2 linked regions of the Homo sapiens genome follow. The protein of the gene in region 2 purifies or fractionates together with the protein of the main gene of each other region. This does not show direct contact. Each region holds a gene or a part of one and is shown on either strand. Other genes may lie near its edges.

What was found.
Region 1: the proteins of C11orf58 (region 2) and MAP1B fractionate together in Homo sapiens (co-fractionation; one large-scale study listed by BioGRID). This does not show direct contact.

Annotation. Positions count from the first base shown.
Region 1 is NC_000005.10:72,197,834-72,201,659, forward strand, and holds part of MAP1B (microtubule-associated protein 1B), read left to right. Parts: coding exon 1-2,534; intron 2,535-3,826. UniProt on the Homo sapiens protein: Facilitates tyrosination of alpha-tubulin in neuronal microtubules. Phosphorylated MAP1B is required for proper microtubule dynamics and plays a role in the cytoskeletal changes that accompany neuronal differentiation and neurite extension.
Region 2 is NC_000011.10:16,744,949-16,748,774, reverse strand, and holds part of C11orf58 (small acidic protein), read right to left. Parts: intron 679-3,826; coding exon 618-678; intron 1-617.

The sequences.
Region 1 (3,826 bases), on a different chromosome or scaffold from region 2:
TGAAAGGAAATTAGGAGATGTTTCTCCCACACAAATAGATGTCAGTCAGTTTGGATCTTTTAAAGAAGACACTAAGATGTCCATTTCTGAAGGTACTGTCTCAGACAAGTCAGCTACTCCTGTTGATGAGGGCGTAGCAGAAGACACGTACTCTCATATGGAGGGTGTGGCCTCAGTGTCCACAGCCTCAGTGGCTACGAGCTCATTTCCAGAGCCAACAACAGATGATGTGTCTCCATCTCTGCATGCTGAGGTTGGCTCCCCACATTCCACAGAAGTAGATGACTCCCTTTCAGTGTCTGTTGTGCAAACACCTACCACATTCCAGGAAACAGAAATGTCTCCATCTAAAGAAGAATGCCCAAGACCGATGTCAATTTCTCCACCAGATTTCTCCCCTAAAACTGCAAAGTCCAGGACACCCGTTCAAGATCACAGATCTGAACAGTCCTCAATGTCTATTGAATTTGGCCAAGAATCTCCTGAGCAATCCCTTGCTATGGACTTCAGTCGACAGTCTCCAGATCACCCTACAGTGGGTGCAGGCGTGCTTCACATCACTGAAAATGGGCCAACTGAAGTGGACTACAGTCCTTCTGACATGCAGGACTCCAGTTTATCACATAAGATACCACCTATGGAGGAGCCGTCCTACACCCAAGATAATGATCTTTCTGAGCTCATCTCAGTATCTCAGGTAGAGGCCTCCCCGTCCACCTCTTCTGCTCATACCCCTTCTCAGATCGCTTCTCCTCTCCAAGAAGATACTCTATCCGATGTTGCTCCTCCCAGAGATATGTCCTTATATGCCTCACTCACCTCTGAAAAAGTGCAAAGTCTGGAAGGAGAGAAGCTCTCTCCAAAATCTGATATCTCTCCACTCACCCCACGAGAGTCCTCTCCTTTATATTCACCTACTTTTTCAGATTCTACCTCTGCAGTCAAAGAGAAAACAGCAACTTGCCACAGTTCCTCTTCTCCACCAATAGATGCAGCATCCGCAGAGCCCTATGGCTTCCGTGCCTCAGTGTTATTCGATACAATGCAACACCATCTAGCCTTGAATAGAGATTTGTCCACACCTGGCCTGGAGAAGGACAGTGGAGGGAAGACACCTGGTGACTTTAGCTATGCCTATCAAAAGCCTGAGGAAACAACCAGGTCCCCAGATGAAGAAGATTATGACTATGAGTCTTATGAGAAGACCACCCGGACCTCAGATGTGGGTGGCTATTACTATGAGAAGATAGAGAGAACCACAAAATCTCCAAGTGACAGTGGCTACTCCTATGAGACCATTGGGAAAACTACCAAGACCCCTGAAGATGGTGACTATTCCTATGAAATTATTGAGAAGACCACACGGACCCCTGAAGAGGGTGGGTACTCATATGACATAAGTGAAAAGACCACCAGCCCCCCCGAAGTGAGTGGTTACAGCTATGAAAAGACTGAGAGGTCTAGAAGGCTTCTGGATGACATCAGCAATGGCTATGATGACTCTGAGGATGGTGGCCACACACTTGGGGACCCCAGCTACTCTTATGAAACCACTGAGAAAATTACCAGTTTCCCTGAGTCTGAAGGTTATTCCTATGAGACATCTACAAAGACAACACGAACCCCTGATACTTCCACATACTGTTACGAGACTGCAGAGAAAATCACTAGAACCCCTCAGGCATCCACATATTCCTACGAGACTTCAGACCTATGCTACACTGCAGAAAAGAAGTCCCCCTCAGAAGCCCGTCAGGATGTCGATTTATGCCTCGTGTCCTCTTGTGAATACAAGCACCCCAAGACAGAGCTTTCACCCTCTTTCATTAATCCCAATCCTCTTGAGTGGTTTGCCAGTGAAGAACCCACTGAAGAATCTGAAAAGCCCCTCACTCAATCAGGGGGAGCCCCACCGCCTCCAGGAGGAAAGCAACAGGGCCGACAGTGTGATGAAACCCCTCCCACCTCAGTCAGCGAGTCAGCCCCATCCCAGACCGACTCTGATGTTCCCCCGGAGACTGAAGAGTGCCCCTCCATCACGGCCGATGCCAATATCGACTCTGAAGACGAGTCGGAAACCATCCCCACAGACAAAACTGTCACGTACAAACACATGGACCCACCTCCAGCTCCCGTGCAAGACCGCAGCCCTTCGCCACGCCACCCTGATGTGTCCATGGTGGACCCAGAGGCCTTGGCCATTGAGCAGAACCTGGGCAAAGCTCTAAAGAAAGATCTGAAAGAGAAGACCAAAACCAAAAAGCCAGGTACAAAGACCAAGTCATCTTCACCTGTCAAAAAGAGTGATGGGAAGTCTAAGCCCTTGGCAGCTTCACCAAAACCAGCGGGCTTGAAAGAATCCTCGGATAAAGTGTCCAGGGTGGCTTCTCCTAAGAAGAAAGAATCTGTGGAAAAGGCAGCAAAACCCACCACCACTCCTGAGGTCAAAGCTGCACGTGGGGAAGAGAAAGACAAGGAGACCAAGAATGCTGCCAATGCCTCTGCATCCAAGTCGGCCAAGACCGCCACTGCAGGTAGGTTGAGAAGGCTGGGCATTGGATATATGTCACAACCATTCTACTTGCGTTTACAGCCTTTATATTTCCCTGTTTGGCTTTGTACTGGGAAGATGAGGGAGCACAATTGATGCTTTACCTTCCCTGTACTCTTCTCCTCTGCCCAAAGGTATATATCTCAGTCCAGTGTGGCCTTAAGGCTTGGAAATAGCTCAGTGTATGGTTCAAAGCAGCTGTGATTCATCACTGGGATTCCTGATTTTGTGCCGTTTTCGAACACAGCAACTACAGCCCTGTTCTAAATCTTCAGAACCAAGGATGTGTCTTTCAGGTGCTTCTGGAAGACTGGTTTCAGCCATACTGGCCTCAGAATCCAGCAGGGTAACACAGGCCAGGAGCTCCCAAAGGCCTAAGGAGAACCAGAGGTTTCACATCAAGACTGGATCAACCAGTCTAGACCCAAGATTTAGAGTCCTTTTTTAAAAAAAATTTTTTTTAAATTAAAAATGTTTACATTTTTATTTAAAACATCACCAGGTTGGAGATAAATCCTCATTAAAGGCAGTGTTCCATTTTCTTATCAGCCAAAAAATACTATAATTTCAGTTGACCAGTGAGTGTCCGGTGAAAATTGAGAGAAAAACATTGATGGCTCTGCTCTTACCCTTCTCTTACCCCATGGCCTCATTAGTAGAGACTCAATGCTATTTCAGATTAAAATTCCACTGGGAAGCTAGATGCATGGCCTCATGCCTGTAATTTCAGCACTTTGGGAGGCTGAGATGGAAGGTTAGCTTCAGCCCAGGAAGTTGAGACCAGCCTGTGCAACATAGCAAGACCCTGTCTCCACAAAAAAAAAAAAATGTTTTTTAATTAGCTGGGTGTGGTGGCACGTGCTTATAGTCTTAGCTACTTGGGAGGCTGAGGCAGGAGGATCACTTCAGCCCAAGAGATCAAGGCTGCAGTGAGCCAGAATTGTATGTATCACTGCATGCCAAGCCTGGGTGACAGAGCAAGACCCTGTCTCTCAAAAATAAATAAATAAGCAAATGAAATGCCACTTGGCAAGAGCAGGTATCCCTGATTTTTGATCATTCATGTTTTTGGTCATGATTCTCAGATTTATCAGGTTCTCAGCAATGACCTGGGCTTTTGATGGAACTGGTCTATGGCAGTACTGCTTCATTTTGTTGCTTCACATCAATCACAAGGATTGGCATTCATACATTTTATTTGCTTTAGGTAATTATTCAGAGATTTTTAGATCACAATTCACAAAGTAATGTAAATGGACCCAAACATGTAAGGCA
Region 2 (3,826 bases):
CCTATTATACATTTCTAATTTTTTTTTTTGGAGACAGAGTTGCACTCTGTCACTCAGGCTGGAGTGCAATGGTGCTATCTTGGCTCACTGCAACCTCCGCCTCTCTGGTTCAGGCAATTATCGTGCCTCAGCCTCCCAAGCAGCTGGGATTACAGGTGTGAGCCACCACACCAGGCTAATTTTTTTTTTTTTTTTTTTTTTAGTAGAGACACGGTTTTGCCATGTTGACCAGGCTGGTGATTTGCCTCAAGTGATCGGCCCACCTCAGCCTCCCAAAATGCTGGGATTACAAGCATAAGCCAAGGTGCCCAGCATTTTTTTCTCTCCTTTTTTTTTTTAAATTTAAGAGATGAGGTCTTGCTCTGTAGCCCAGGCTGGAATGCAGTGGTGCAATCATAGCTTCATTGCAGCCTCAAACTCCTGGGCTTAAGTGATCCTCCCACTTTAACCTCCCAAATAACCGGGATTACAGGCATTAAGCCACTGCACCCAGCTCTAATTATAATATTTTAATAATTTACACAATTACATGCCAAAGTAGAATATCCTGAAACATGAACACATACTTCATATTCTGAATTTAGCACTTCCATTTTAATTACACTTTACTTTCTTACCGGTTCGGAAGTGAGATGTTGATTTGTGATCTCCTATAACAAGACGACCAGTATGTTCTTTCTATAAGAAGGTTGAAAATGTATTAGCATTTGAGACCACTAATTTAACCTTATTGGGTATCTACTATGTGCTGAAAACTATTCTAGGCTTCTGGGACACAGTGAAGACAAAAGATTAAATTAGAATCTCTGCCTTTAAGGACCTTACATTCTAGCAAGGGTAGGAATGGGGAAGGGAGACAGGCAAACGTAATCACTATTTATACTATGTTAGAAAGTACTAAGTGTGATTAAAACAAAACAGACCTGAGTAAGGAGTAGAGCAGGTTGGAATTTTAAATAAGATGAATAGATAACTAGAAAATTGAGTCAATCTAAACATTTTCTTTCCTAAAGGCCAGTTAAATGAGTTGCTTTAACTTCCCACCTGCTCTTTCTGCTGCCTCAAGTATATCTCATGGAGAGAAAGCAAATGAGATTTAGCCTGACAAAAATGAAATAATTGAAACTTATAATGTATCATATAAAGTGATAGATCTTATTACAGTATATCACAATCATTAGCTATCTCTTTACTATTTGACAATAAACTACTAATCTCAACTTGTCAAAAAGAACAATTTAAAACAATCCTGTACTCTAAACATAAAAATACATATGATTCAATATTACCAACTGATTAAACTGCATAATTACTCTCAATTTAATCAGTCCAATCCACTCTTTATGGTTCATATTTAGTTTCATAAGTGCTCATTAAAACACCATGTGAAGGTGAGAATAAATGTGACTTTGGAAAGCAATCTTAACCAATCATCTGTGAAGATACAGTAACAAACCTTCCTATTGTGAAAAAATGGCAGATACAGTCTCCATACACAAAAATGATACTACCGAAAAACTTCAAGTGTTAATGCTCATTGCTTTATGTGCCATTAACACATAAGCAAATCAATAATTCAGTGTGTTACTAGTTTAGGTTGCAAAACTGACAGCCATTAACAAGATTTTAATATAACAGCATCAAGTTATTCCAGGATGATGACAGTATTGCACTGATCTATTCATATGTTCTTAGCTGGTTCTTCCTGTGACCAATAAAATATTCATGATAGCCGGCTAGGATTACAAATATACTTTGTGGCCACAAAATGGAATACCTCTAAACACCCCATATGAAGATCAAAGCTACAATCTTGGCCTCACAAAGAATTTAATCTATGGGCCAGGCGCAGTGGCTCATGCCTGTAATCCCAGCACTTTGGGAGGCAAAGGAGGGTGGATCACGAGGTCAGGAGTTCAAACGGTGAAGCCCTGACTCTACTAAAAATACAAAAATTAGCCAGTCATGGTGGCAGGTGCCTGTAATCCCAGCTACTTGGGAGGCTGAGGCAGAGAACTGCTTGAACCCGGGAGGCAGAGGTTGCAGTGAGACTGTCTCAAAACAACAACAACAAAAAAAAGAGAATTTAATCTATGCTGAACAACCTATTTACTAGTTAGTCAACTTCCATATATTTTATATTAGGATGTTCTTCCTAAGTACTTGAATAAGTTTCATTCTACTAAGTTGAATATGGCCCCTAAACTAACACTTACCTTACATATCCTTAACAAATCTTTTAAGTCCTCACTTAATTTTCAATGATAGGTTCTTGGAAACTTCGATTTTAACTGATTTTAGTTGAAACAACCTATAATGAAAACAATTTTCCTCCTTATCAGTGTTACAGTGAAACAACTTTATTGTCAGTTTGCCAAAGGTTAGTTTCCAAGAACCACAAGGGATGTTAAGTGAGGACTTAATATATTTGCATGAAACAAGAGAAATTGCAGACTATTTTCTATGACAAATTACAAATTGGGAAATCTCGATTAATGAGATATTATACAAATGCTTTATTTAAATAGGTCTCAGTGTTTTACATGACCTCTTCCTATCCCCAAACCTACTGTTGTAGTCTGGCTAACTCCTTCTCATCCTTTGAGATTCAGATCAATTCTATTTTGGGGAAGCTTTCTTGCACTGCTAAACCAGAGTTAGCTGCCCTCTGTGATTCCACAGCACTATGTGCATGGCTTTCTCACAGCAATTACAATTCTGTATTGCTATTATCTGGTTTCCTCCATTACATAATAGCTTCAAACATGTATTATTGATCTATATGACCACCCAGGATCCAGCACAGTAGTAGGTAGTCTGTAATTGTTGGGAAAATGAATGAATGTATTCCCATGTGCATAACAAAACAAAGAGCAGAATTTCATTTTAATGTGCTTAAAAAAAGAGAAAAAAAGCTTTCCTATTTCTTTTCAATTTAGTTTGTAGGAAGTCTGTTAGGACAATGTTAGGAAAATAAATTTACTTGCTTACAAAAACTAAGTATCTAGAGATCCCTGTATAAACTGCTAGGATAAAGAAAGGTTTTTACAATAGATATTTTCCTGGCACTTGTTTTATATAGTTGACCCTGAACACAGGATTAAACTGTGTGGATCCACTTATACTTGAATATACTTCTGCCTCTGCCACTCCCAGACAGTAAGACAATCCCTCCTTTTCAGCCCACTCAACATGAAAACTATGAAGATGAAGACCTTTATGATAATCCACTTCCAATTAATGAAGAGTCAATTATTTTCTCTTCCTTATAATTTTCTTGATAACATTTCCTTTTCTTTATTGTAAGAATACAGGATATAATACATTTAACACCCAAAATATGTGTTAACTGATAATTATGTTATCAGTAAGACTTCCAGTCAACAGTAGGCTATTAGTAGTTAAGTTGTTGGGGAGTCAAAAGTTATATGCAAACTTCTGACTGCCTGCAGAACCAGCACCCCTAACCCCCACATTGCTCAAGGGTCAACTGTACCTTCTATTAACGTTAACCAAACTGACAGGCATTTCAAAGTATCTTGAACATTTTTAAAATTAAGGTTTTCTTTCCCCCTGGTGTTCTACACATTCAGAGAAACTTCTCTATCTAGTAACAAACTATAGAAATAATCTCTGAAAGTGTAGTCTTAAAATTAAGTTTTTGATAAAGGATATTCCTCTGGTTACTACTTCAAGGGCTGGAGGGAGCTATAAAATATGACAGCCTTTTCACTTTGGCCAGAGGTTCCCACAAGATAACCTACCCAGAAGAAATATATTCTATCAAACCACTGGGCCAACATATGGCAAATCATAAACTTTGACA